Linked DNA regions of Homo sapiens: regions 1, 2, 3, 4, 5 and 6 are each linked to region 7. The links come from fine-mapping of genetic effects on gene expression. A gene starts in region 7. Each other region holds a variant in brackets. All regions are shown on one strand. Distances are between the middles of the regions.

Region 1 (4,068 bases), 100 kb before region 7:
TAAGACAGATTAGATCACCTCTATGTGAACTCTAGCTCAAAAAATTATGACTGCAAATAAACAGAAAATAGTTTTACGTAAGTTTAGAAAATAAAATGTGTCCAATACATCACTATCAACTAAACCCTGGTAATAGAAGCCTTGTGTCGTTTGCTTACGCTGTCTTGGAAAGCTATCTGCTTCACAACAACACTACAGACAACTTAGAATGTCTACTACTAGAGCACTGGTTAAGTAAATCATGACTTACCCAATAATGGAATGTTACAGAACTATTTTTTTTAATGAGGTAGATAAACATGTGATCACATGCAAATCTAAAACACATTAACTTTAAAAAGGTATAGAATATATAGTACGCTTTTATTTCTGTATAACAAAAAAGAATAAAAAAGACCTGCATAGATTTACATGTGACTGGAAACGTGCAAGAACACTATGCAAGCAGCTGAGAGCGGCTGTCTCCACGGAGAGCAGACAGGGACTCTGGGTAAGAGAGAGGCTTGCCTAGGACTGCACAACCTTCCATACTGTTTGATTTTTAACTTGGAGCGTGGATTACAGTATTTTTAAAAGAACTCTTTAAAATTAAAAGCTATTTGGAGCTACTTTAGATCAGACAAATTATTGCAAATATAGGGCACCCTTTGTTATTTTTCCCCCCTATTAATTTGTTCAGTTGGAAGGGCTGCAGCGGCCCTGAGCTGGGAGAGGAGGGCCACTGCTGACCTCCTCCTCGCTGCCTCCCCCCATTTACCGTCAGCTCAGACTGAAAGGGAGAGGCTGGCAAAATCAAATGACAGGTCAAGGGGAGTTATGAAACACGAGAGAGAGGTGCTGGAAAAAATGAGAATTCTCCCACAGAGAAGGGAGATGCCTCTGGGAAAACTAAAAATAGTCAGCTGAAAACAAATCACCAGGGACAGAGATGAGCCACGTGGAAAATAAGAAACACGAGGGGTCACGTGCACATGAAGCAGAAACAAAAATCTATTTACATCCTCATCAAACATTCCTGTGACACCTAACGCTATTCAGCCCAAAACAAATATAAAAACACCCCAGCTAACATATTTTACAGAATAAAACTGATTTAATTTACTGTAGCTGTAAAATCATCTAGGACAAAAGTAGCAACATAGGCCAACCCAATGCCCTAAAAGTGAGCAGACAGGTCACCACGTGCCTAAAATATATACTAAATTTATTTTCATCTTAGGCACCGAAAATAATAAGCAGATACAAACATAAACCTCAGGGGAAGTATTTTGAGACTGCACACACTTTTATTATGAAGATTGGAAAACTAGATTTGTGATTCACTTACTACTTCCCCATAACCATTAGGATGTTTTCTGTCAGAAGTGTTTAGTATACAGAAATCTTTTAGCATATTAAAATTAACTGTCAAATCTGACTGAGAAACTATCCAATGAAAAACGATGGGAACCTTCTCATCTACACAGGCGAACAGGAAATATTCTTCTAAATTTACCTGTGTCCTATTTCCCAAACACTGGAACTAAAATATAATTTAACAGGTGCTGATTTTCACACATTTGGCTGGTGATGGAGAAAAGAGCTAGGGAACACCAAGGCAACAATTCTGCCTTCCATCAACACAAACAACACAATCTGCTGCCAAAAGTAAAAGTACTATGCACTTGTGCTGAAGCAACAGAAAACAATTTTTAAATTAAGCCTCATCTCTCATTAGAGAGAGCTTTTTTCCTCCAATTATCTGTCTCCTTGGAAAAACCTCTGATAAACATCTGCAAATTAATGAAGACATCCCCCGTGCAACACTAAACAGAGATCTATGCGAGACAGACCTGTGTGGAAAACAACAGTGCTTCTCCTAAACCCTGAAGGAAGTCGAAGGTTTCGAAGCAATCCTTTGGCCGTCAGTCGTATGTGAATGGTGGATAAGGAGAATTTGGGAGACAACAACATGTCTTCGGAGCAGGTGGCGAGATTTCACAGAAGAGGCAATTTCCATGGACTGTCACATACTGTCTTTTTAAACTCAGTACTCTTCAAGGCCAAGAAATACAGTCAGAGGAAAGATGCCTACACAGCAAATGTCATTCCACCA[G/C]AGAGGCATAGAAGAAAAAAATCCCCCAGGGCTGGCCAAGTGTTTCTGGCTTCCGTTTTCACTTTCAGATGTTGCCAAAATGATGCTCTTCCTCTGAATACAATCTCCCTCCTGCAGGTCTAGAAGCTGCCTCTGAACCACATCACACTGTGCATGCTTGTGGAGTTGTTATGGTTTTCATCCGAGATGGTAAAGGGGAGGAGAAAGTGGGTGGTCTCAGGAGCTTTACAGAACAACCAATAATGTCACAGATCCTGTAACCACTTGAAAGATCGCTAGGGGAAATTAACTACTTCAAGTGCCTAATGTTTCTTTCATAATTAGAAAAAAATTAGGATTTCCTGAAAGTAAACTGTGTCCTGATTTTAACATTTTTCACTCCTTATATTCACAATGATAACATGAGCATTTTTTCTCTAGATATTTTACATGTAAACTACATTTAAACCTGGTATTTTGGAAAAGTTTTTTTTTTAAAGACTTCAGGCAATAAATGTTCTCAACTACAATATTTAAGAAAATTTCTATTCTAATATATTAATGACAGATTGTCAAAAGGTTAAAGTTCAACTTTAATTCCCACATGCTGAGGACCTCACAAATAATCAACAGTAAAAGATTAATACGGTTTCTCTATCAGATGTAATATCAGAGTTCCAGAAGAATAGTCCATCAGATAGGCATATTCTAAAGACTACATTTATTGCATGAGTAATTGCATTTATAGAACATCATGTGGTCTCTTATAGTGGTCTTTCAAGACTAGGAGTGTGAGGAGGGCACAGTTATGAATATCTTTTGCCAGTTATCTACTAATTTTTATTTCAGTAGAGTGGCTTGTAAAAGTATGTTAAAACATGATAGCAAAACCAAAAGAACTTGAAAAACAAAGATATGGTTATAAGAATTAACAACAACAATATGCCCACTTAAGCTAATTCCATTAAACCACGAATAGCCTGAGCTCTTAACATTTTTAAAAATGTTATAAACAAAACAATGTTTTAAAAATGTCCTATGCCTGTTTCCAAGATTTCCTAGAAAATAAGACTCAGAAATAAATGCAGAATTGTTACCATAAATAACACTATTAAGTGCTATTAAAACTAGCAGGAAGCAGTTCTTTTAGAAATTCTATAGAGTAGGGTATGAAGCAGGGAAGAGAGAGGGAGGAAGAGAAAATTTAAATAAGTTCTCTTCCCTCAAGCCCCCTCCCTCTTCACTCAAGCCCCCAACTTGCCATTTTAGAGGTTGTCAGCAAGAGAGACAGACCCAATAACCTGTCCAGGGTTCCTGTGAGAAAGATACACCTAGTTCATACACTGACGAAAAACCTGCTACATACATTGCACCACAGCAACTGAAGCTAAATGATCAAGGAATTAAAATCAAGGCCAGCTGCTTCTAGGTGTTGCCTTTTACTTCATCCCAGTTTATTATTAAAAAACCTGAACACCTTTTCCTTCCAGATTCTACATACTAAAAATATACCAGAACCTTTTCCTCTACCTCCCAAAACCTTGTAAAAACCAAGAAACCAATCAGCATTAAAAACAAACAGAAGAACAGAGTCAAATTTTGCCATGATTAAAAACAGACATGCCACCACTCCATATAGTAGGAGGTGGTTTTTCTTTCTTTTGGTTGTGTTTGTTGTTTCTTCAGTAACAGCAAATTCTAAATTATCCTTTTTTGTTTGTTTTTGTTTGTTTTTTGAGATGGAGTTTCACTCTTGTTGCCCAGGCTGGAGTGTAATGGCGCAGTCTCTGCTCACTGCAATCTCTGCCTCCCGGGTTCAAGTGATTCTCCTGCCTCAGCCTCCGTAGATGGGATTACAGGTGCCCGCCACCATGCCTGGCTAATTTTTGTATTTTTAGTAGAGATGAGTTTTCACCATGTTGGCCAGGCTCGTCTCGAACTCCTGACCTCAGGTGATCCACACACCTCGGCCTCCCAAGTGCTGGGATTACAGG
Region 2 (4,068 bases), 150 kb before region 7:
GAAAACTTCCTGTGCTTCTAAGTCTCTTAATTTCATCAGAGGCCTGTAATTTACAAATATGAAGGGAACAGTGGGTCTCCCTCTCATTGTATCAACTCATTCTTGCACACATACACAATGCAAGGCTGAAGGATATTATCAGGATACCTCTGGGGCATGGCAAGAAACAAATAGTAGATCATCAGAAATTAAATGTGTTGGTAAGTTTACAGCAAAGTCTGATTTATTGCACATGATTTTTTGAAAGTTTTGATGCATGAATGGCATATGGAGCAGTCCTATTAACAGGATCATCTGAGTCATCCCTGACTACCAGATTAGAAGATACCAGACTCAGTCGAACAGGACGACCTTTGGCAGGAACTGGTATGTATACTAGGTTGGCCCATTAACAACCATGAGTTCCTTTCCTTCCTTTACAAAAATTTCCTGATAATTCAAAATGCTGGTATATCCACACAGGGGCTTGGCCGTTATCTCCCTCAACAGAAGTCATAGTCTCCAGAAGAAAACCAAACGCCAAACCAACACAAACCAAGCAGCAGAGAGGTCCCCCATGTCCCCTACTGTCCAGGGCTGGTTTGGGTTTGAATGAGGCACTTGTAGAAGCCTGAGTCACTCATCACTGTGGGGAGAAGAGGCCAGTAGCATGCGGCAGCTGGACAGTCAACAGCAAGGCACCGCGAGGGCGGGGATCACTTAAGCTGCCTTGCCAAACTCTGCCAACTTGGTTAGAGTCCTGGCTGGCAGCAGCTGTATTTCAGGGCCGGGCCAAGACTGACGCTGAACACTGAACATGCCACTCACACTAACATCGTTCTCTGTTCTAGACACTGCAAAGTGAATGTTAATTCATATTTTTGGTAACACCTGCTACTTGTCCAAATGGATTAATCTTATTATAGCACAATTTTTTTTTTGAGATGGAGTCTTGCTATGTCGCCCAGGCTGGAATGCACTGGTGCCATCTCACCTCAATGGAACCTCCACCTTCCCAGTACTTGGGATTACAGGCACCCACCACCACACCCGGCTAAGTTTTATATTTTTAGTAGAGACAGGGTTTCACCATGTTGGCCAGGCTGGTCTCGAACTCCTGACCTCAAGTGACCCACCCATCTCAACCTCCCTAAACTGCTGGCATTAGAGGAATGAGCCACTGCGCCCAGCCCACGATTCTTTTATCACATGCTAATTCACAAGAAGCAAGATGAAGAATTTTGATAAATAGTATTGCTATTCATTTCTATTAAATTCATTTCTATTCATTTCTATTAAACGTATCCAACTGTTTTGGATCTAAGAAACCTGTCCAGGGTGGCTGGTATATTAAAGTACTGATTTTACATAGATATTTAAACATTTTTCTTATGCAGGTGAAGATCCAAAATACCACTGAAATATAAGCCTGATTTGTTTGTAGTTTTTCCAAGGACTGGGTGCTGTTTTACATGTTCCTTGAAAAAGAAAACATTCTAGGAGGCAGCAATGAATAAATATGGAACAAACTTGGAAAGAAAATGTGAACTTTATCTTTTGTATAATTTCTAAATATCTTTAGGAGCAGTTAACCCAACTCCACAGTTCTAAAATGCAGGGCTCAATTTCACACATATTACCCCATTTGTAAGATCCTCTTTCATTCTGAAGGAAACATACCAGTTTCTCCATTTTCATTAACTTGATGTCCTGTTGATGCAGTTTCTCATTCTTGATCTCTAACACAGCTTTCAGGCTTTCTAACTCCTGTTCTAGATACATGATCTGAGGATTTTTCTGGAAAGGACACAGCAAGATACTGCTCTTATTCCACATAGTTCAAATTCTTAACAGAAAGAATCTTTGATTAGATTGAGACATTAGACAAGTAGCAAGCGACAGATGTTCATCATCTTAGAGCAATTTCAAAGAAAGAGGTGAAAAACAAGAGCACCTTAATGTCGAAGACTGGTCCTAATACTGAAAGCAAACATTTCACTTATTTATCAGTAACTTAATATGCAAAAATGTGAGTTGCATCAAACATGTTATTGTATCAAGAGAAAAACTTTGCTTACATACAAAACAGAATCTTGGCTGGAGATGAGGCAATCTGTGAGTCAGTTATTGGCATTTTCTGGGAGAACAGGGAACAACAGTTCTCTCCTACCAAACAAACTGATCAGGAAAGAAAAAGCAGTGCATTATACGGCTCTCTGGAAAACAACAGGGATAACAAT[G/T]TCCTGAGTGTTTGGATTTTTGTTATGATGGGGCTACGTTGACTGGGCCATACTTCTAGGGCAGACATAATACTATCATTTTCTATTGTGACACCCCAGTACCTACACGGCATGGAGTACACAGCCTATTTAAATTTCTCTCCAAAAATTACAAGTTTGCCAGGCATAGTGGCATATGCCTACAGTCCCAGCTACTCAGGAGGCTGAGGCGGGAGGATCAACTGAGCCAGGAGGTCAAGGCTGCAGTGAACTGTGAATGCACCACTGCATTCTAACCTGGTGGCAGAACAAGATCCTGTCTCAAAAACACAAAACTCTCCAAAATAAATGCTACATCAGGGGAGGCGTCCTCTGAGAGCACACCATCAGTGTGGATTTCCCACCACCGCCCACCCACTCCTTGCTTTATTCGGAAATTCAACTAAACCATTCAAAATTTATGCTACAGAAGAACAGCATATGGTCCACTGATCAGATATGTTTAATGAAGCAACGTCTTAGGTAAGAGTCGGTGGTGTGGTCATCAAGCTTATCTTCCGGGGCATTGGTTTCTGCTCTGGACCAATCCTTAGGGAGAATCCAGGAAGGGGCCTCGGGGATTACTTAATCCAAACCCCTTACTTCACACAGAAAGAGGAAACGTGTTCCACGGGTTAAGCGCCCTACTCAGGAAAGATCAGGAAAGCTTCCAGAGCTGGAAAGGGTCAGGGCAGGGACTAATACATCTTTAATTCTAGGTTCTTTAGATAGTTCCCTGAGGCTAGGAGAGGTATGCGTGTGTATGGTGGGAGGTGGGGTGGGGTGGGATGAGGAGAGGTTGGTTAATGCATACAAACATACAGTTAGACAGAAGGAATAGGTTCTAGTGTTCAAGAACATAGTAGGGTGACTATAGTTAATAATAATATATTGCGTACTTCAAAATAGCTACAAGAGAAGATATAAAATGTTCCAAACACAAAGAAATGATAATGATGACGGATACCCTAAATACCCTGACTTGGGCATTACACAGTCTATGATTGTCTCAACACATCACACGTACCCCATAAGTACATGCAAATACTAAGTATCAATTTTTAAATTTCATACATTTTATACAGTGTTACCCTTGTACGCAGGATTTTTTTTTTTTTTTTTACCTTGAAAATAGCGAATCCTACCTCATTTTTGTTAGAGGGAAATGGCATAACTTACCGTCAGTTTTAAAATTAGAGCATTTACAAGACTTGTACCCTCTGCATTTTCTCCTCCTCCTCTGCCAGCCCATCCCTTTCTCCCGGACTACAGTCAGACGCACTCTTTTTCCGCAGCCTCAGCATGCTTACGTGACAGAAGCGGTTGGATGCTTCTGTGTTCCTCACTCTGACTCTGCCTTAGCTTTTCAAAAGCGGCTGCAGTAGAAGAATCCCCTTTGTGTACCGGAAGCTCTTTCAAACCTGTTTCCTGAGCCATCAATAAAGTTTATACCCTGCATATCCCTGCATGTAAGTCTAGATTTCTTTTGAAATCACTGACTCTTCCTAAGAATCTTCTAGAATAAATAGCTTTGAAGTTTCTTTGAATATAAGCTCATCTAATGTTATCAAATAGCTAGAGGGTCTCCCAATGACATTATTTGCAGAAGGTCTCACTGAGAGATCCACACATGTACTTTCTAGAGCTGGCCAGAGATTTGAAGTGGAGAAAAGCTTTGCTTCTGCAGTCTCAGAGTATAAACATGAAATGAAAACAGTGGTACTAAAGGCAGAAGCAGCAAGGAAACAAATTTTTTTCAAAAAGACAAAGGTTGGGGTAAGGCTGGGGAAAAAGGACAAATGTGCCACAAGAAATTTCAGCTTCCAAGAGA
Region 3 (4,068 bases), 110 kb after region 7:
AAAATTTAGCTGATCATCAGAAATATATTTTATTAAAGCTGTTTTTACCATTGTTGTCGCCTGAACCACATAGGCAGAGTCAGAGACAATATAAACAGGTTGATCAAAATCTTCCAATACAAATATAACTGCTTGTAGCTTAGCTCTTTGTGGAGAATGAAACTGGGTTTGAATAACCTTTTCTTCTGGTCCTGTATAAGCTGCTTTTCCATTCTGAGAGCCATCAGTAAAGACAGTTACAGCCCCCTCCAAGAGGATAGAACTGGTTATTTTAGGTAAAATCCAGGTAGCCAATTTTAGGAACTGAAAAATTTTTGTTTTAGGGTAATGATTATCTATATGGCCAACAAAACCAGCTAAATTAGACTGCCATTCTGATAAATGTATAAAGGCTTGTTGAACCTGTGCTTTGTTTAAAGGAACTACAATTTTATCTGGATCTGTGCCAGTGAATCTAACTATTCTTAATTGGGCTTGGCCTATAAGAATAGCTATTTGATCTAAGTAAATTGAAAAAGTCCTAGTTGTACTGTGGGGTAAAAAAGACCATTCAACCAAGTCAACATCTTGAATAATCACTCCTGTAAGAGAATGGAGAGTAGGAACACCAAGAGCTGTAAGGGAACACTAGGATCTATTCTACTGACTTGAGCACTTTGAATTTTTTCCTCAATTATTCTTAACAGCTGAAGCTGTTGCAGGCGTCAGAGTTCTTTTGCTATGTAAATTTGGATCCCCTCTCAGCAAAGCAAACAAGTCAGACCTCGCATAAGTGGCAATTCCTAAGGTGGGCCTTATCCAATTAACGTCTCCTAATAATTTTTGAAAATCATTTAAAGTTTTTAAGGACTTCTTACGAATTTCTACCTTTTGAGGCATAACTGTTCTCTCCTCCACCTTCATTCCTAGGTAATGATAGGGTGTAGTAGTTTGAATTTTATTTGGCGCTATAGCGAGAACTGTAAGCCCCACCATTTCTTGTAACATAGAAAAACATTTGATAAGTCTATCCCTACTTGTAGCAGCACATAAAATGTCATCAACATAATGAATAATATTAACAATCAGGAAACTGATCCTGGACGGGCTGAATGACCTTCCCAACGAAAGTTTGACGAATTGTAGGACTATTTAACATTCCTTGGGGTAAAACTTTCCACTGATACCTAGTAGCTGGTTCCTTATTATTTATAGCAGATATTGTAAATGCAAATTTTTCAAAGTCCTGGGGATCCAAAGGAATGGTGAAAAAACCATCTTTCGAATCAAATTTTTTTTTTTGAGATGGAGTGTCACTCTGTCGCCCAGGCTGGAATGCAGTGGCGCGATCTCGCTCACTGCAAGCTCCGCCTGCCGGGTTCACGCCATTCTCCTGCCTCAGCCTCCGGAGTAGCTGGGACTACAGGCACCCGCTACCACACCCGGCTAATTTTTTGTATTTTTAGGAGAGATGGGGTTTCCCCGTGTTAGCCAGGATGGTCTTGATCTCCTGACCTCGTGATCCTCCCGCCTCGGCCTCCCAAAATGCTGGGATTATAGGCGTGAGCCACCGCGCCCGACCCAAATCAATTATTACCACCGGCCATTCTCTTGGAATCATGACTGGGGATGGCAACCCCGGTTGGAGAGCCCACATCGGTTGAATGACTGCATTAACCGCTCGTAGGTTGGTCAACATGCGCCATCTACCGGATTTTTTCTGAATTACAAAAACCGGGGAATTCCACGGTGAGAAAGAAGGTTCAATATGTCCTTTG[T/C]CTAATTGCTCTTTTGCTAGTCAATGTAATGCCTCCAGTTTTTGCTGAGGAGGCGGCTACTGATCAACCCACACAGGTTTTTGAGTTTTCCATTTCAATGGGATGGGCTTTGGAGGCTCAACAGTGGCCGCCCCTAAAAAGAGTACCCAATTCCTTTTCGGTCAAGTTTAACTGAAGCTTCAATTGGCTGAGTTATTCCATCCTCATTCTTTCCTAATGTTTTTCCAGGAGTATACCCCAACTTAGTCATCATGCTTTGACTCTCTGAACTGTAAATCATAGAGGGAATGGTGATTTCCGTACCCCACTGTTGTAACAAATCTTTTCCCCACAAATTAATGGGAATGGCAGTAATTATAGGTTGGATGGTGCCTTCCTGTCCATCTGGTACTAAACAGTGTAAAATTGTAACACTCTGATAAACTTCAGATGCCATGCCTATTCCAATTAAACCCATAGAAGCTCTCTGTTTGGGCCATGTTTTTGGCCACTGATCCAGGGCTGTAACAGAAATATTAGCGCCTGTATCGACAAGTCCTTCAAAGAGTTTTCCCTGAATCGTTATTGTGCACACAGGTCTATTTTCAGAAACTTGACTTACCCAATAAGTTGCTTTTCCTTTGCTATCAGTGCTGCCGAAACCACCTTCTCTTTTTACTGTACTTTCTCCTACTTAGGTAATAACAACAATTAGGTAATAAGGTAATAACAACAATTGAGCAATTCTCTCTGCCTGGCTTGCACTCCAAGGAATACTAGAACTAATAACCAATTGAATTTCTCCCACAAAATCGGAATCTATCACTCCAGTATAAATTTGAACTCCTTTTAAATTTAGACTAAATCTCCCTAAAACAAGTCCAACTGTTACCTCAGGTAAAGGGCCAAATACTCCAGAGGGCACCTTTTGAGGTGGTTCCCCTGGAAGCAGAGACACAGCTCTGGTGCAACATAAATCTAAAGCAGCGCCCCCTGTTGTAACTGGCGCCAATTATGTTACTGTGGTGGTCACTTGAGGGATTAAGGGCACTGGTGCCCACTGACGGACAAACTGCTGGAGAGGGAATGCCCCAGTTTGGAGTGGGGCCTGAGGCTGGCCCCTCTTCCCATTTCCCAATTGCGCCTGCAAGGGTTGGCCATTTTCATCAAATTTGGAGTGACACCGTTTAGCCCAACATTTACCCTTCTGGCACCTGGGACATAAGCCAGGTGGCTCCTTTGTTTGATTAGATCTGGATTGTTTGTTTGATTTGTTCTTATATTCCTTTTTTGTATTTCCAAATTGCCCACAGTTATAACAATTGCCTGAAAAGTTTTTCACTGGATCTCCCACCTTTGATCCTGCCATGTTTTGAGCCATTATCATAGCCTTATGCATGATTCCACCAATCTATCACATGCCCTGATATACTCATTGATTACATCAACTCCCACCAGAACCTTTCCTTTCACAGAGCGAATAGGTGATTGACAGTCAGGGTTGGCATTTTCATAAGCCAAGAATTCTATAATCACCTTCCTGGCACTTTCATCAGTGAGAGCCTTCTGAGCTGCATCTTGAAGAGGAGCAATAAAATCAGGATACGGTTCTTTTGAGCCTTGTCTGACAGAATTAAAAGAGGGATAAGTAGTTCCCGGGTCCTGAATTTTTTCCCATGCCCTCAAGCAACAATTGCGAATTTGCTCAACGGCATCATCCTGAAGCACTAATTGTTGTACAGTTCCTCATTGGCCCCCAACTCCCAACAGTTGTTCAAGTGAAATGGCAACAACAGGATTAGCAGCACGGTTTTTTTGATCTTGATTTTGAGCCTCATCGGTCCACCAACTTTTAAATTGAAGAAATTGGGAGGGCGAAAGAGTAGCTTTTGCTAAAATCTCCCAATCGTCCGGGGCCAATCGCTTGTCCTGAGTTACTGAGTGTAATAGTGACTGGACAGAAGGCGAATTGGGACCTTACTGACCAACAGCTGCTTTGAGATCTTTAAGCAGCTTAAAAGAAAATGGTTCCCATACCGCCTGATGGGCACCACCCTGCTGCTGTGGGAGTTCCAAAACTACTGGAAACTGCCAGGCATCGGGATCTCCAGCTAACCTAGCCTGCCGAATAACCATTTGAAATGGTGATTCATTGACATTAGGTGGCAGTGCAGCCCTATGCTGTACTGGTGCTGCAAAACGTGTTCTTGATTCCTGAGCCCCTAATTTATCCATTCGTGAAACAGGGCAAATTGGAGATTCAAACCTCCAAGGCTCCAGGTTACGTTGCCTTATTGGAGGTGGCCACTCCGGATGATCCCAATGAGGAGCC
Region 4 (4,068 bases), 160 kb before region 7:
AGACTTTTTGATGTAGTCATTTAATGCTATGAACTTTCCTCTTAGCACTGCCTTTGCTGTATACCAGAGGTTTTGATAGGTTGTGCTACTATTTTCATTCAGTTCAAATAATTTTTTAACTTCCATCGTGATTTCATTCTTGACCCAGTGATCATTCAGGAGCAGGTTATTTAATTTCCATGTGTTTGTATGTTTTGAGGGTTGCTTTTGGAATTGAGTTCCAATTTTATTCCACCGTGGTCTGAGAGAGTACTTGATATAATTTCAGTTTTCTTAAATTTATTGAAACTTGTTTTGTGGCTTATGATATGGTCTCTCTTGGAGAATGTTCCATGTGCTGATGAATAGAATGTATATTCTGCAGTTGTTGGGTCGAATGTTCTACAAATAGCCCTTAAGTCCATTTGTTCTAGGTTATAGTTTAAATCCATTGTTTCTTTGTTGATGTTCTGTCTTGATTACCTATCTATTGCTGACAGTGGAGTATTGAAGTTCCCCACTATTACTGTGTTGCAGTCTATCTCATTTCTTAGGTGTAACAGTAATTGTTTTATAAATTTGGGAGCTCTGGCATTAGGTGCATATATATATATATATATATATATATATATATATATATATATATATATAATTGTGATATTTTCCTGTTGGGCAAGTCCTTTTATCATTACATAATGTCCGTCTTTCTCTTTTTTAACTGCTGTTTCTTTAACGTTTGTTCTGTCTGATATAAGAACAGCTACTCCTCTATAAGACAGGCCTGCACCTGTAATCCCAGCTACTAAGGAGGCTGAGGCACAAGAATCACTTGAACCTGGGAGGTGGAGGTTGCATTGAGCCAAGATTGAGCCATTGCACTCCAGTCTGGCCGACAGAGTGAGACTCTGTCTCAAACAAAACAAAACAAACAAAAAGAATAGCTACTCCTGCTCACTTTGGTGTCCCTTTGCATGGAATATCTTTTCCCAGCCCTTTACCATAAGTTTATGTTAGTCCTATTTGTTAGGTGAGTCTCTTCAAAACAGCAGATACTTGGTTGGTGACTTCTTACCCATTCTGCCATTCTGAATCTTTTAAATGGAGCATTTAGGCCATTTACATTCAACATTAGTATTCAGATGTGAGGTACTATTCTATTCATCTTGCTATTTGTTGCCCGAATACCTTGGTTTTTATTTATTTATTTATTTATTGTGTTTTTGTTTTATAGGTCCTATGAGATTTATGCTTTAAGAAGGTTCTATTTTGGTGTATTTCAAGGATTTGTTTCAATATTTAGTGCTCCTTTTAGCATTTCTTACAGTGCTGGGTTTGTAGTGGCGAATTTTCTCAGCATTTGTTTGTCTGAAAAAGACTGTATCTCTCCTTCATTTATGAAGCTTAGTTTTGCTGTACACAAAATTCTTAGATGATGATTCTTTTGTTTAAGGAGGCTGAAGGTAGGGCCTCAATTTCTTCTAGCTTGTAGGGTTTCTGCTGAGGAATCTGCTGTTAATCTGACATGTTTTCCTTTATAAGTTATCTGGTGCTTTTGCCTCACAGCTCTTAAGATTCTTTCCTTCATCTTCGCTTTAGATAACCTGATGACTCTGTGCCTAGGTGACGATCTTTTTGCAATGAATTTCTCAGGTGTTCTTTGAGCTTCTTGTATTCAGATGTGTAGCTCTCTAGCAAGGCCAGGGAAGTTTTCTTTGATTACTCCCTCAAATATGTCTTTCAAACTTTTAGATTTCTCCTCTTCCTCAGGAACACCAATTATTCTTAGGTTTGTTTGTTTAATATAATCCCAAACATCTTGGAGGCTTTGTTCATTCTTTTAAATTCTTTTTTGTTTGTCTTTGTTCGATTGGGTTAATCCAAAAATCTGATGTTCGAGTTCTGAAGTTCTTTCTTCTGGTTGTTCAGTTCTATTGCTAAGACTTTCCAATGTATTTTGCATTTCTCTAAGTGTGTTCTTCATTTCCAGAAATTATGATTGTTTTCTATTTTTGCTATCTATTTCACTGAAGATTTTTCCCTTCATATCCTGTATCTTTTTTGA[TTTAA/T]TTAAGTTGGAGTTCACCTTTCTCTGATGCCTCCTTGAGTAGCTTAATAACTGACCTTCTGAATTCTTTTTCTGGCAATTCAGGGATTTCTTTTTGGATTGGATAAATTGCTGGTGAGCTAGTGTGATCTTCTGGGGTGTTAAAGAAACTTGTTTTGAAATACTACCAGAATTGTTTTACTGGTTCCTTCTTATTTGGGTAGACTATGGTAGAGGGAAGATCTGGGGCTCAAGGGCTGCTCTTCATATTCTTTTGTCCCATGGGGTGCTCTCTTGATACAGTGCTCTCCCCCTTCCCCTATGTGTGTGGCTTCCTGAGAGCCAAACTGCAGTGATTGTTATTTCTCTTCTGTATCTAGCCACCCAGCAGAGTTACTGGGCTCTGGGCTGGTACTTAGTGGTGCCTGTACAGAGTCCTTTGATGTCTCAGGTCTCTCAGCCATGGATGCCAGCAGCTGCTCTAATGGAGGTGGCAGGGGAGTGAAATGGATGAACTCTGTGAGGGTCCTTAGTTGTAGTTTCGTTTATTGCACTAGTTTTGTGTTGGTCTTCTGCCAGGAGGTGGCACTTTAAAGACAGCATTAGCTGCAGTAGTATAGGGAGGATCAGGTGGTGGGCAGGACCCTAGAGCTCCCAAGAGATTATGTCCTTTGTCTTCGGCTACCAGGGTGGGTAGAAAAAGACCATTAGTTGGGGGTGGGCTAGGCGTGTCTGAGCTCAGACACTCTCCTTGGGCGGGTCTTGCTATGGCTGCTGTTGGGACTGGCGGTGTGGTTCTCAGGCCAATGGGGTTATGTTCCTCAGGGGATTATGGCTGCTCTGCTGTGTCATGCAGGTCACCAGGGAAGTGGGGGAAAGCCAGCAGTTACAGGCCTCACCCAGCTCCCACGTAGCCCAAAGGGCCGGTCTCACTCCCTCTGTCCCTGCCAACAGCACCGAGTTTGTTTCTAGGCAGTGGATGAGCAGGGTTGAGAACTTGTCCCAGGCTACCAGCCTCTTGGATAAGAAAGCAAACAGGGTTTTCAGATTTCACATCTCCTACCTGCCACGGTTTCTGTGCTGTGTCTGCACTCCTGCTTCACCCCCTCACCCGAGTTCTGTCCAGGAAACTGTGTTTGGTCAAAATTGTTACAAAGTTCAGCTAGAAGTTTCCTTCTCCCTGTGGTCTTTTCCCAGTTTCTCTGGTAGCCCTCTCCAGGGATCTCTGTGAGACAAAGTCAGAAATGGCTTCCTTGGGGACTGAGAGAGCCCATAGGGCTCTTTCTGCTGCTCCTTTCTATTCCTGTGTTTCACTTGGCTAGAGTGTTCTCTATACAAGCTGTGCCCATGGCAAGCTGCTGTGAGCAGACATCCACCAAGTGGACATAGACCACGCCAAAAAGGTGCTGTGAGGCCAGAGATAATTTTAAAGTAGACTTCTCATAAAAGCAATTGCAGCGTATTTAGCCCTTGTGCATGTTCTGCTTGCTAAAATAACAGCTCTGCTCCCAGCACGGAATAATCCCTTTGTTGCCAGAAGAGATTTGGCCTCCACAAGACACATTAAGTAGCTGACATCCTTCTGGCCTATGGGCTGTGATTGGTAGAAAATAACTGTCTCTGGGGAATAGTGTTTTCCGGCATCCTGGTACCAGGCACTTGATTATCAAACGTGTTGGTCATACTTACAGGACATTGATGATTTTCAATAGAGGTCCCCGCCACATTGCTATTTGGTATTTTATGAGAAAAGGTATTCACTTAGTGATATATTAGTTCTGTTACATGAATTCAGAAAATACTATGTTCTTATCACTGGAGTTGGGTGGACATCTCAAAAGTGACCATCGCACTTTGTAGAAATAGGGGTCCTGTCATGTAGTACATTATCTTACCCATCCTTGGTACAACTTTTCTCCCACTAGAGTCCTAAGGCACACTGGCCTAATCATACTTCTCCCTCTCTCAAATCTGAGCAATTGGGAGCTCTTAGTCATTTATACAGTGGGTGCTTTTTCAGGCTACTGACTTTCAGTTCTGTAGGT
Region 5 (4,068 bases), 190 kb before region 7:
AAACTAGTTCAACCATTGTGGAAGTCAGTGTGGCGATTCCTCAGGGATCTAGAACTAGAAATACCATTTGACCCAGCCATCCCATTACTGGGTATATACCCAAAGAGTTATAAATCATGCTGCTATAAAGACACATGCACACGTATGTTTATAGCGGCACTATTCACAATAGCAAAGACTTGGAACCAACCTAAATATCCAACAGCGATAGACTGGATTAAGAAAATGTGGCACATATACACCATGGAATACTATGCAGCCATGAAAAATGATGAGTTCATGTCCTTTGTAGGGACATGGATGAAGCTGGAAACCATCATTCTCAGCAAACTGTCGTAAGGACAAAAAACCAAACACTGCATGTTCTCACTCATAGGTAGGAATTGAACAACGAGAATGCATGGACACAGGAAGGGGAACTTCACATACCGGGGACTGTTGTGGGGTGGGGGGATGGGAGAGGGATAGCATTAGGAGATATACCTAATGCTAAATGACGAGTTAATGGGTGCAGCATACCAGCATGGCACATGTATACATATGTAACAAACCTGCACGTCATGCACATGTACTCTAAAACTTAAAGTATAATAATAATAAAATTTAAAAAAAATTTAGAGCAAAATTTAGGGCAATTATGAGTCGAGGATTTAAAGCCTTTCTAAATATGTATACAAAGAAAATGCATGGCTGGGCATGGTGGCTCACGCCTGTAATTCCAGCCCTTTGGGAGGCTGAGGCGGGTGAATCACTTGAGCTCAGGAGTTTGAGACCAGCTTGGGCAACATGGCAAGACCCCATCTCTACGAAAAAAGATACACAAATTAGCAGAGCATGGTGGCGTGTGCCTATAGTCGTAGCTACCTGGGAGGCTGAGGTGGGAGGATTGCTTGACTCTGGGAGGTGGAGGCTGCAGTGAGCTGAGATCATGCCACTGCGCTCCAGCTTGGGCAACAGAGTGAGACTCTGTCCCAGAAAGAATGAAAGAAGGGAGAGAGAGAGACAGGGAGAGGGAAGGAAGGAGGGAGAGAGACTGAAAGAAGATGCTGAGTAATATAAACCGCATTGTGAGGGTTAGCCGTCCTCATTGCCTTCAGAAGAAAGACAATGTCTCTTCCTGTGTCAGTTGCCTCCATCCTTCCTCCCCATGCCCCATACCCATTTCACTCCAACTGGGGTCTTTAGATGTGTTCTTGGACCTCATGCTTTTTTGCAATAATTTTTTAAATTTTTTCTTGCATTTTGTTGATAATATTAAAAACTTTGTGTAAGAATATTCTGGATTATCTGAATAACCCCTGCTGGGAGATCAACGTGACCCATTTGCATCTTCTCTGCACACATTTTGTTTCTTGAATCTCATCATAACACACTTCCAGGGTGTAAAGCCAGAGAATTCTTGGCACCGCGCTGAGCCAGGGAAGAAAATGAGATGAAACGGAGAATAAGTGGGTCTGGACGAAGGCTTAAATATAACCAATCAATGCTGGTAGGAACAAGGAGACGTTGGAGATTTCAGCTATGTTGTCAGCAACATCACAGCAGTAAAAACAAGATAGGCTGATGTGGTAATAAGCCCTGGTCCTGCTCCCTAGGAAATAAGAGTCCAGGCATTGTCTTTCAGGATGTTTTTCTGGTATCTGGTCGGATGTTAGCATTTTTTCAGTCAAAAACTGGGAGTTGGGAGGAGTGCGTGGGGCACAGGAGATCTCTTTGATGGCTGGCTCCTCGGAAAACAATAAATAGCTTTTAGAGAGAAGGGAGGGCATCGGGCTTTTCATTTGGCCACGGTTGGCAACAGCTTACTCCACCCACAGACAACACAAAGGGAGGGTGGGCCGATGGAGCAGAGAGTGGGCTCCCAGCCAGGCTCATCATGTCATCCAGCATCTGGAGGGAGAGTCTGGAAGACATTTTAAAAGAAAAGGAGAAATATCTTAAGTGGTTATCAACAGAAGAATCCCACCATTGAGAAAGAATCTGCACAGACTTTGGTAAATGTTGTGGAGAGTACTCTGGTGTTATGCTGAGTAAGGTATTTTTTTTCAAATAATTTATATTTTTCGAAAATACACAGAACGTACAATTTACCATATTAACCATTTTTAAGGAGATAGTTCAGTACACTTAAGTGCATTCATATCATTATGTGAGTGTCTTTTGTATGCGAACTCACTTTCCTCCAAAGCTCGTTTTATTTTATTTTCTGAGCAGAACAAATGAAGATGAGGAGGCTCTCACTTTGCCTTCATTCTTATCTGGAGCATGGGTCCAATTGGGGTCTAATTTGCAGTGGCCAGTCAAAAGGAAACGCCACCCCCAAACTCTAATACTTGCCTTCAAATGGTCTTCCACCCCAGAAATGACAAATAGGTGACCTAACCAATGCTGAAGGTAGAGCGTTCTCTTTCCAGACTCACTGGCACCAGCTGCAGGCCCTCCGTATTTCCCCAGAGATG[G/C]GTGGGTGGAGGCTGCAGGATACAAGACTTCCCCCAGTGTACTCAATGTTCTGAGAGCGTTCAGCTTGCAGAAAAACACAGCTATGTTCCGTTCAGGACAAGGGTGGGGGGCAGGTAATAATAGAACGAGGCTCATTGTGCTGTTCTCAGGATAGAATGAGGTCATGCGTGTAAACCTCTTGGCACACATAGTAAGCCACCTAAATATCGGTGAGCTATTTCTGTTCACCATACTGTACCCAAAGGAGGTAAATCATAAGAAACAGCCAGTTTTTCGTTTTTTGTTTTTTTGTTTTTTTTTTTTTTTTTTTGAGACGGAGTCTTGCTCTGTCACCCAGGCTGGAGTGCAGTGGTGCAATCTGGGCTCACTGCAACCTCCACCTCCCAGGTTCAAGCAATTCTCCTGCCTCAGGCTCCTGAGTAGCTGGGATTACAGGTGCATGCCACCATGCCCTGCTAATTTTTGTATTTTGATTGGAAATGGGGTTTCCTCATGTTGGCCAGGCTGGTCTCAAACTCCTGACCTCAAGTGATCCACCTGCCTTGGCCTGCGAGTTTCGTTTTAAGAAACGTTTTAGACGTGTGTCTCAATCCCCTACAAACTCTTTGTGTCCATAGCACTGTGGAGGGCTCACTGATGCTCATACTAATGGTCCCAAGGTTCTCTAGATCACCCATTGCTCGTCGATCTAGTCATTAGAGTAGGGGAAATTGGTTGAAGCACGTTCTATAGTTTTGGGGAAAACGTCTTCTGCTAACTCTTACTTAAAAATAATGTTTCTACCTACACCAAATATGTATTTAAAAAAACAACAAAAAAAGTTTCTTTCAACAAAACATTTCATTTCTTGAGCATTTCTGGTAAGTCTAGGATTGATTATCCCAGATGTGTTGCACAGAATTAAAATACAGTAAGAAAATGACAATACAGTCAAGCTAGTGCGTTAAACCAAAGACACTGTAGGAATATCACCAACTATGTTAGATGATAATTTTGGGGCATCTTGCAAGATGGAGCATTGTTTATAGTACCAGTGATTGCATGTATTTTATGAGTGAAATGTTGCTTTAACAAGTAAGTATACATGTGGGTGACGTCTGGGATTTAATGCTCAAATGTAAACACTGGTGTGTTAGTAGCATGATTTTTGGCCAAGTATTTGAATATAGAAGATGTAAATAAAACAGCTTTGAAAGATATGTCAAAGGAGGGAGCAAGAAAAGAGGAATAAAGGATAAGATGTAAAATGGGAAATTTTATGTCCACTAGTGTATAATTGTGTAGAATGGCACATTTATAAAAAAGCAAAACGAAGATGTCAGAGGTTTGCCTCCAGTGTCCGGGCTTGGCTGCCTTGGCGGCTCCGTCCCACCCACACAGCCGGCTGCAGGTGGGCAGCTGCTAAGTTGCTGCCCTGGGGAGTCCGCCCAGAACCTTCTCTTGTCACTTCCCGTCCTGCATTCCCAACTTGTCCACTCTGTCCTGGGGCCTCAGGGGCCTGTCTCCTGCCTCGCTTGGTGCCTTCCTGCTCAAAGACTTTGCTTGGATTGCCTTTGGGAGTTCATCCTGATTTGCCCCTGGTCTCTGCCTTTCAGACCACATCCTACT
Region 6 (4,068 bases), 98 kb before region 7:
TAAGTCAGTATGTTGTAATATCACAGTATATTCAAACAAACAGAAATTCCACTGGTCTGCATAGAAATGTGTTTTTTTAAATCAGTGATTTAGAAAACAATGATGTCATGATTCTAGACAAGAATCTAGCATAATCTGTATGGGGTGCTTAGATGCTACAAAATGCCTTCAATTTATCTGTTATTGTTTGTTGTTGTTAATGATCATAAAGAATGAGGAAGAAGATTAAAATTTAAACCAAGTGACTTGTGTGGAGATTCAAGCATCTCTATCCAACCAATCTTCCTTAGCCTAATATGGAATATTAATCTTTATATTTATCTCCTTACTTTCCCTAACACAGCATTAATTGCAACATTTTCTTCATTTTACTCCTCACAGTCTTTAATGTAGTAAGTTCAATTCTCTATTCCAGTTGTAGAAACTTCAACTTAAGGCCCAATTTTTCCACACTATCCTCTTCCTCAGTACGAAGATAAATTGTAATTATCAAAAAATTAACACAAAGCAATTAGAAAAACAATCAACTTCCACCCACCTGTAAGATGATAAGCTCTCAAAGAACAGTGACATTGCCTTTTATTTTGCAATAAGCAAAATAAGAGTTTAAATTAAAAGCAGTAATGCTTTTAATTCATGTACAATGTTTGTTTTTAAAAAACAAAACCTCATATGTTCATCGTAGAATTTTTTTTTTGAGACGGAACCTCGGTCTGTCGCCAAGGCTGGAGTGCAGTGGCGTGATCTCGGCTCACTGCAAGCTCCACCTCTCGGGTTCAAGTGATTCTCCTGCCTCAGCCTCCTGAGTAGCTGGGACTACAGGCGCCCGCCACCACGCCTGACTAATTTTTTTTGTATTTTTAGTAGAGACAGGGTTTCACCGTGTTAGCCAGGATGGTCTCAATCTCCTGACCTTGTGATCCACCTGCTTTGGCCTCCCAAAGTGCTGGGATTACAAGCGTGAGCCACCGCACCCGGCCAGAATTTTCTTTTCAATTTAAATTACTTACACATCAGACTGCTCTCCAATTTGTTTTTAAACTTAACATAAGCTTAATAAACTTATTAAACTTAAAAATTTCACACTTATCTTTCCATGGGATTAAATAAGCATTTATATTGTTATTTTAATGGCTTCAAAAATGTCTTTAAAATGTCAACGAACTTAATTCCTGTAAGGTATATAGGTTGTTTCCAATTTTCCCCCATTGTAAACAATTCTGAAAAGCAGTCAATAAGTAAATAAATTACTTTCCTAGGACCAATTCTGAAAAACAGAATTCCCGGGTGGAAGGTGTTTGCTCTCTGCTACAGCTGCTGTAATTTACCAAGGAGCTGTACATATGAGTGCTGTTTCTTATTCTTCGCCAGTACCAGGTGCTAACATTAAGAAATAAGCAAGAACTGAGAGCACATTATTTTAACTCATATTTGGTAAACATTTTTCATATATTCCTTAGTCCTTCATATATTTCTTTTCTGTCCATCCACTTATTTTTCCCTTTCTTTTTGTTTAGTTTTTTTAATTGTGGCAAGAACACTTAATGAGATCTACCTTCTCAACAAAATTTTAAAAGAACAATATAATATTGTTAACTGTAGGCACAATGCTGTAACAAACATCTCGAAAACCTTTTCGCCCTTGCATAACAAACCTTGTACCATTGAACATCAAGTTCCCATTCCCTGGCAACCACCACTCTACTCTGTTTCTGACTTTGACTATGTTAGATGCCTCCTATAAGTGGAATCATACAGTATTTGCCCCATGACTGGTTTATTTCACTTAGCATAGTGTCCTCCAGCTTTATCTGTATCACAGCATATGGCAGGACTTTCTTCTTTTTAAAGGCTGCATAATACTCCAGTGCACATATATGCCATATTTGCTTTATCCTATGGACACATTTAGGTTGTTCCCACATCCTGGCTATCATAATGTGGCAATGACCATTGTTGCAGGGAGTCAGGGACCCCGAATGGAGGGACCGGCTGGAGCCACGGCAGAGGAAACATAAATTGTGA[C/T]GATTTCATGGACATTTATCACTTCTCTAAAAATACTCTTATAATTTCTTACGCCTGTCCTACTTTAATCTCTTAATCCTGTTATCTTTGTAAGCTGAGGATGTACGTCACCTCAGGACCCTGTGATGATTGCATTAACTGAACAATCTGATTGCAAAATGTTTATTTGAACAATATGAAATCAGTGCACCTTGAAAATGAACACAATAACAGTGATTTTAGGGAACAAGGGAAGACAACCATAAGGTCTGACTGCCTGCGCGGTCGGGCAGAATACAGCCATATTTTTCTTCTTGCAGAGAGCCTATAAATGGACGTGCGAGTAGGAGAGATATCGTTAAATTCTTTTCCTAGCAAGGAATATAATATTAAGACCCTAGGAAAAGAATTGCATTCCTGGGGGTAGGTCTATAAACGGCCGCTCTGGGAGTGTCTGTCCTATGCGGTGGAGATAGCTTGGCCGGGTGCGGTGGCTCACGCCTGTGATCGCAGCACTTTGGGAGGCTGTGGCGGGCAGATCACGAGGTCAGGAGATCGAGACCATCCTGGTTAACATGGTGAAACCCCGTCTCTACTAGAAATGTAAAAACTTTGCCTAGCGTGGTGGTGCGCACCTGTAGTCCCAGTTAGTAGTCCCAGGCAGGAGAATGGCGTGAACCTGGGAGGCAGAGCTTGCAGTGAGCCGAGATCGCGCCACTGCACCGCAGCCTGGGTGACAGAGCCAGACTCTGTCTCAAAAAAAAAAAAAAAAGGACTGAGAGAGATACGCCCTGGTCTCCTAGTCTCCTGCAGTACCCTCAGGCTTACTAGGATTGGGAAACACCAACCCTGGTAAATTTGAGGTCAGACCGGTTCTCTGCTCTCAAATCCTGTTTTCTGTAAAGATATTTATCAAGACAATACGTGCACTGCTGAACATAGACCCTTATCAGGAGTTTCTGATTTTGCTCTGGTCCTGTTTCCTCAGAAGCATGTAATCTTTGCTCTGCCTTTTTCCCTTTGAGGCATGTGATCTTTGTGACGTACTCCCTGTTCATACACCCTCTCCCCTTTTCAAATCCCTAATAAAATCTTGCTGGTTTCGCGGCTTAGGTGGACATCACGGACCTACCAATATGATGTCACCCCTGGAGGCCCAGCTGTAAAATTCCTCTCTTTGTACTCTTTCTCTTTATTTCTCAGACCGGCCAACACTTACAGGAAACAAAAATAACCTACATTGAAATATTGGGGGCGACAGACCATGGGAATGCAAGTATCTCTTCAACATCCTGATTTCAATTATTTTGGTAAATAACGCCTTATCAGACGTATGGTTTGCAAATGTTTTCTCCTATCTCATAGGCTGCCTTTTCATGCTATTAAATGACTGCTTTGCTCTGCAGATTTTTAATCTGATGTACTCCAACCTGTCTATTTTTGCTTTTGTTACCTGGGCTTTTGGTGTCATACCAAGAAAAATGACATGAAGTTTTGCCCCATGTTTTGTTTGAGGTGTTTTATAGTTTCAGATCTTATATTTAAGTCTTTAATCCATCTCGAGTTGATTTTTGTGTACTGTGTGAGATAAGGGTCCAATTTCATTATTTTGCTTGTGGATGTCCAGTTTTCCCAGTACTATCTACAAAAAGACTATCCTTTCCCTATTGTGTATTCTTGGCACACTTGCTGAAGATTAGCTAACCGTATATGCACGGATTTATTTCTAGACTATTTTATTCCATCGGTCTATGTTTCTATATTTGTGCCAGTACCATACTCTTTTAATTACTGTGTGTTGTAATATACTTTAAAATCAGGAACTGTGATGCCTCCAGCTTTGTTCTTTGTCAAGATTGTTTTGGCTATTTGCAGTCCTCTGTCATTCTATATGACTTTTGGGATTGTTTTTTCTATTTCTTTAAAAAAATGACACTGGGATTTTGATAGGGATTGCACTGAATCTGTAGATCTCTTTGGGTGGTATGTCCATTTAGCTTCTATTATAGAGTTGTCTTTATCTTGCTGATTTGACAGAGCTCTACACAGAGTATGTGCTAATAT
Region 7 (4,068 bases):
AGAGGCGTGAGCCACCGCACCCGGCTGGAAAATTTTTTTTAAATCTTCTACCACAGTCACATATAGTTCTGAAGCTACGATTTAGAAGTGTTAAAAATTCTGTTTTGAGAAAGTCAACAGATTTATCAACATTAAAGAAATTTGTGTATGTCAAAACTACTGTAAATATATAAAGCAAAGATAAAATGGGAAAAGTATCTGCAATATGAATGGCAAAGATTTACTATCAATCCATAAAAGGCTCTTATGAATTAATGGAAAAATACTAATATCCCAGGAGAAAAATCTGGCACTACATCAAATTTCAAAATGGAAAACAACTAGATTTCTTTGGTGTTCAAATCATCTGTAATCAAAGAAATTGAAGTTTAAATATAGAGAAAGCACTGTTCACCTATAAACCTGGGAAGAATTTTTTTTTTTTCCCTTTAAGGATGATTCTACATGTTGACAAGAATACGGTAACACCAGTATTCTCACAGAGAGCTGGTGGGAACATAATTTGGTTAAACATTTTTTGGAAAGCAAATGGTCAATATGTATGAGGAGATCTTCCAACCATCAACTGTATTTCAAGGGCACTAAGGATATTAACCCTGCACATAAAGTTTTAAAAACGTATTTGTTGCAAAAGTATATTTAGTAAGTGGAAATAAATGAAAACCAGTTTGATACATCTATGTAATGTAATATTAAGTAGCCACTAAGATTTCTGAAGATTTCATGACATGGAAAATTTTTCATGATACATTAATCAGGAAAAAACCTCCACGCAATAGTATATTTAGATAAACTATATAACTATAAAAAATTTTTCTATATATTAACAAGTATTTTCTTAAATATTAACTGTGATTATCTTTGCTGAAATTGCTTAACTCACTTTTCTCAATCTACCTATTTTTATACAGCAAGCACGGATTACTTTTGAAATCAAAACAAACAGGGTTAACAGAACAGGGCTATTAAGTAACAGGCTTTTTAAATGCTTGAGTGTAATAACTGCAGGTTAGTTTCCAAAAAATATAAGATATTATCTAGAATCTTATAATCCTATTATACTCCAAAATGTAACCTTGACTTATTGACATAATTAAAAGGTCTTGTTCCAAGCATGATTTTCTACCAAGCAGATTTACCAAGAATTATTTTCTCTTCATAAACCTGATTTTAAAAAGAACAGGTGAAAAAACGTGGTGCAAGTTACATAAATAACTACATATTATTTTAAACTAAATTCCACTTCTAAGGTTTTTTAGCTTTGGTTTTAAGGATAAGCATGTAGTTCTAATCTTTTCTTTGTATAGCTTTCCTAATGGAATATATTGCCTATGAAAAAAAAAAAATCTGTAACAGCACTTTCTACACTGTAAAGCACTGTACTAACAGGACATCACCATTTTAAGTTGTGTATCATTTCCTGCCCTAACCATCCCTGAAAAAGCAAACTGTCTACAGAATTGCAATTCCGTTTATGCAATTCCTTTTAAAGTTGTCCATGCACTGTTATCTTGTATATACCCTCCTTAAAGAGGTCACTGGTTCCCAGGAAGCAATGACTCTCTTTTTTAATCCCCTCCCTCCTGCATTGCCTCCCTTCCTCCTGAAATTCACTGGTAACACCCCTACTCCCACCCTCCAGCCCCAGCGCTGTGATTTAGTGATGATTGACTTTCGATCACCTGCACCTGGCAAAACTTGAAAGCTTCCACGCACCGTTTTGCCTAAGACTTTGGTTTCATTGAAACAAACAAAACACACTGGATTTCCTTTCTTAGAACACTGACTACTTCAAACAAACAGTATTTAACAGAGTATGTGTAACTACGCAGGCTAAATGAATTAACCTCTTCCTTCCTAGTCCCAAATTACTCCAAGTCAAAAATCAACAAACAACTTGGTAGAAAGGAGTACGTCTTCAAAAAAGAACAAAAACGTTCCTCAGTGAACACCTAAGTCCACTAAGCACTATAGAGTAGTCAATAAGGTCACCTTAATTAAGATGAGATTTTTCTAGAGCGTGAAAAAGTGCAAACAAGCTGCAGAAAGTAGCGAGGCGCCACGAGGGGTCTTTGGGACCTGCAGCAACCCTATTCCACCCGCTTTCTCGGCCCCGCTTGCTTCTGCTGAGAAGGGGCCCTGCGAGAAGGCTGGGACCGCCGGGCCCGGGTGGGCGGCGTAAGGAGTCCACAGTCAAGCCCCTCGGTCACTTTCAAGGTGACAGCGACGAGATCCGCATCCGTCCCTTCCGCAGGCTCTGCGCTGGCCCACGTGAGACCCGCCTCCGCTCCGCCGGCGCTGCCGCCCCCTTTAGCCCTCAGCTTCGGCCCCCAGGCCCCTGGAACGCCCCCTCCCCTCCCCGAGGACCGGTCCCGTCACCCTGGGCGGCGCGCTCGCCTGTCCCCTCCCCACCCCGGCCGCCGGGCAGCGGGAACAGATTCCAGCGCGCACTTACCCGCAGCTCCTTCAAGCGCTCCGGGAGCAAAGACGCAGAGGCGGGGAGGGCTGGCGCCCTTTGCACCACTGGCGGGGTCGCCGAGAACCCGCCCCGGAGGTCTCGGGGGCGGCGTCTGCACCTGGGGGCGCGCGGCGCGGCACCACCCCACGCCTGCGGCGGCTACCAGGCGGGACCCGGAGCCCCGGCCTCCCCGCCTCCCCGCCTCCGGGGCCGCCAGGGGGTGGAGCAGGGCGGGGAGTTCGGGAAACTTGTAAATAGCCGAACTCGGGCCTCCCGCCCCAACCCGGGGCGGCTCCTTCCGAAGGCTCCACTCCAGCGGCTCGCTGCGGGAGACCAAGGCCAGCCGCCGTCCCAGGGGACGGCCCTCGGGGAACCTGAATGACGTGCGAGGCCGTACCTCGGGGCGCTGGACTCCGCTCGGGCGCTCCCGCTCTCCGCTCCCGCTCTCGGGTCCCAATCCCGACGCTCCGCGCGCTCCCGGACTAAGTGCGGACGCGCCCCACGCCCCCCGGCGCCAGCCCGGGACAGCGCTGCACCTGTTGCCACGTGCGACGCGGCGCTCAGCGGCTGCCACTGCCGCCGGCGCACCTGGCTGCACCGCGCGTCCCGGGACCACGCTCGTCCCCGCAGGAGCCCGGGGCTCCGCCGCACCCAGCGCTAGGGCCCAGGCCGGGCCGCGGTAGGTGGGGGATCTGACTCCTGCTTGCCTCTGGCCACCTGCAGGCCGAGGGGCCTCGCACCGCGGGGCGTATAGAAGGTGGGAAGGTTGCAGAATTATCAGGGCGGAAGCTTGCAAGGAAGGAGTCGTGATTGTCTCTTAGAAGGGCTGATTCGCAGTCTGTATTATCTTCATGCTTCTAGCAAGTTTACTAGCAAGTGTGTATTAAAGGTTAAAGAAAGTAGCTTTCCAGCTATTAGAGCTTGAGATACAACGTGGAAAGGAGTCTAGAACCCCAGGGAGATAAACTAGGCTCGACCTACTTTTCTCTAAACACAAACACAGTCCTTGCTGTTTGCTAAACTGAGCAAATTTCATCGACAGCTGTCTTCTAGGTCCGTAAAATATTTTCTTCTATAAAGCATATTTTTAATAGAAAACTTGTCCGAAGATGCTATTCTGCCTGTGAGAGATGTCACATTGCTGAACCGTGAAATGTCAGACAACCTGAGAACAAAATTTTAATATTTCCTTTTTAATTACCTGGATTGTGGTTTGCTAAAAGCTTTTAAAGAGAAGTGAACTTTTTTGGAGAATAGACGTAAGGACTCTGTATTTCACAGTTTTCTATACCATGAATATTAGAATAACTGACAGATGTCTTGCCATTGATAGTTGTAAAGACTTTTCATATGTACAATGATCCATTATTTCCTGACTACAAAACCCAGGGGTATATAGGTCAGATTATCTCCATTATTCAAATGAGGAATTGAAGCTCAGAAAGGTCAAGTGACTAGCGCAAGGTCACACAGCCAGTGAGGGCAAGTGCAAACCCAGCCAGCCTAACTCCTAATCTTCTCTTTTAATTCCATTACATAATGACACCTCTCATTTGCTTCAGAAATCCCTGTTGTAAAGATAGATGCAACTAGCATGATCCGTGTTGTTA

Which allele goes with the higher level. Positions count from the first base shown, and alleles are read on the strand shown. Sizes are in standard deviations (SD) of each study's normalised expression. Not every link is listed here.
For the expression in spinal cord of the gene that starts at base 2,489 in region 7, G is the high allele of the variant in region 2 and T is the other (large effect, 0.83 SD a copy in GTEx).
With allele TTTAA in place of T in region 4, the expression in anterior cingulate cortex of the gene that starts at base 2,489 in region 7 is higher (small effect, 0.30 SD a copy in GTEx).

The links.
Region 1: its variant is fine-mapped to the expression of MTUS1 in whole blood (TOPMed, PIP above 0.99).
Region 2: its variant is fine-mapped to the expression of MTUS1 in spinal cord (GTEx, PIP above 0.99). The same link has a PIP of 0.9 or more in hippocampus, putamen and substantia nigra.
Region 3: its variant is fine-mapped to the expression of MTUS1 in whole blood (INTERVAL, PIP 0.98).
Region 4: its variant is fine-mapped to the expression of MTUS1 in anterior cingulate cortex (GTEx, PIP 0.93).
Region 5: its variant is fine-mapped to the expression of MTUS1 in fibroblasts (GTEx, PIP above 0.99).
Region 6: its variant is fine-mapped to the expression of MTUS1 in whole blood (TOPMed, PIP 0.98).

Annotation. Positions count from the first base shown.
Region 1 is chr8:17,695,425-17,699,492 of GRCh38, forward strand. All of the region lies in intron 6 of MTUS1 (microtubule associated scaffold protein 1), which reads right to left. Among named protein-coding and RNA genes, the nearest start is that of MIR548V, 16 kb to the left of the region's middle. The variant G/C (reference allele first, on the strand shown) is at 2,096.
Region 2 is chr8:17,648,187-17,652,254 of GRCh38, forward strand. MTUS1 (microtubule associated scaffold protein 1) reads right to left here. Exons shown (of 15, transcript NM_001363059.2): 13 at 1,660-1,776. It overlaps LOC124901891 (a long non-coding RNA gene), which reads left to right. Exons shown (of 2, transcript XR_007060834.1): 1 at 1-366; 2 at 1,377-1,771. Among named protein-coding and RNA genes, the nearest start is that of MIR548V, 31 kb to the right of the region's middle. The variant G/T (reference allele first, on the strand shown) is at 2,220.
Region 3 is chr8:17,911,104-17,915,171 of GRCh38, forward strand. It overlaps LOC124901892 (endogenous retrovirus group K member 25 Env polyprotein-like), which reads right to left. Exons shown (of 1, transcript XM_047422511.1): 1 at 1-4,068. Among named protein-coding and RNA genes, the nearest start is that of PCM1, 9.8 kb to the right of the region's middle. RefSeq lists enhancers at 390-1,180, 1,181-1,969. The variant T/C (reference allele first, on the strand shown) is at 1,758.
Region 4 is chr8:17,638,158-17,642,225 of GRCh38, forward strand. The region is part of intron 5 of PDGFRL (platelet derived growth factor receptor like); the gene reads left to right. Among named protein-coding and RNA genes, the nearest start is that of MIR548V, 41 kb to the right of the region's middle. The variant TTTAA/T (reference allele first, on the strand shown) is at 2,042.
Region 5 is chr8:17,604,144-17,608,211 of GRCh38, forward strand. The region is part of intron 2 of PDGFRL (platelet derived growth factor receptor like); the gene reads left to right. It overlaps LOC107986919 (a long non-coding RNA gene), which reads right to left. Exons shown (of 2, transcript XR_001745819.2): 2 at 1,503-1,903. Among named protein-coding and RNA genes, the nearest start is that of PDGFRL, 29 kb to the left of the region's middle. The variant G/C (reference allele first, on the strand shown) is at 2,460.
Region 6 is chr8:17,700,869-17,704,936 of GRCh38, forward strand. All of the region lies in intron 6 of MTUS1 (microtubule associated scaffold protein 1), which reads right to left. Among named protein-coding and RNA genes, the nearest start is that of MIR548V, 21 kb to the left of the region's middle. The variant C/T (reference allele first, on the strand shown) is at 2,026.
Region 7 is chr8:17,798,606-17,802,673 of GRCh38, forward strand. MTUS1 (microtubule associated scaffold protein 1) reads right to left here and starts at 2,489. Exons shown (of 15, transcript NM_001363059.2): 1 at 2,456-2,489. It overlaps MTUS1-DT (MTUS1 divergent transcript), which reads left to right and starts at 2,737. Exons shown (of 3, transcript NR_186403.1): 1 at 2,737-3,137. RefSeq lists silencers at 2,603-2,722, 2,803-2,862, 2,903-3,092.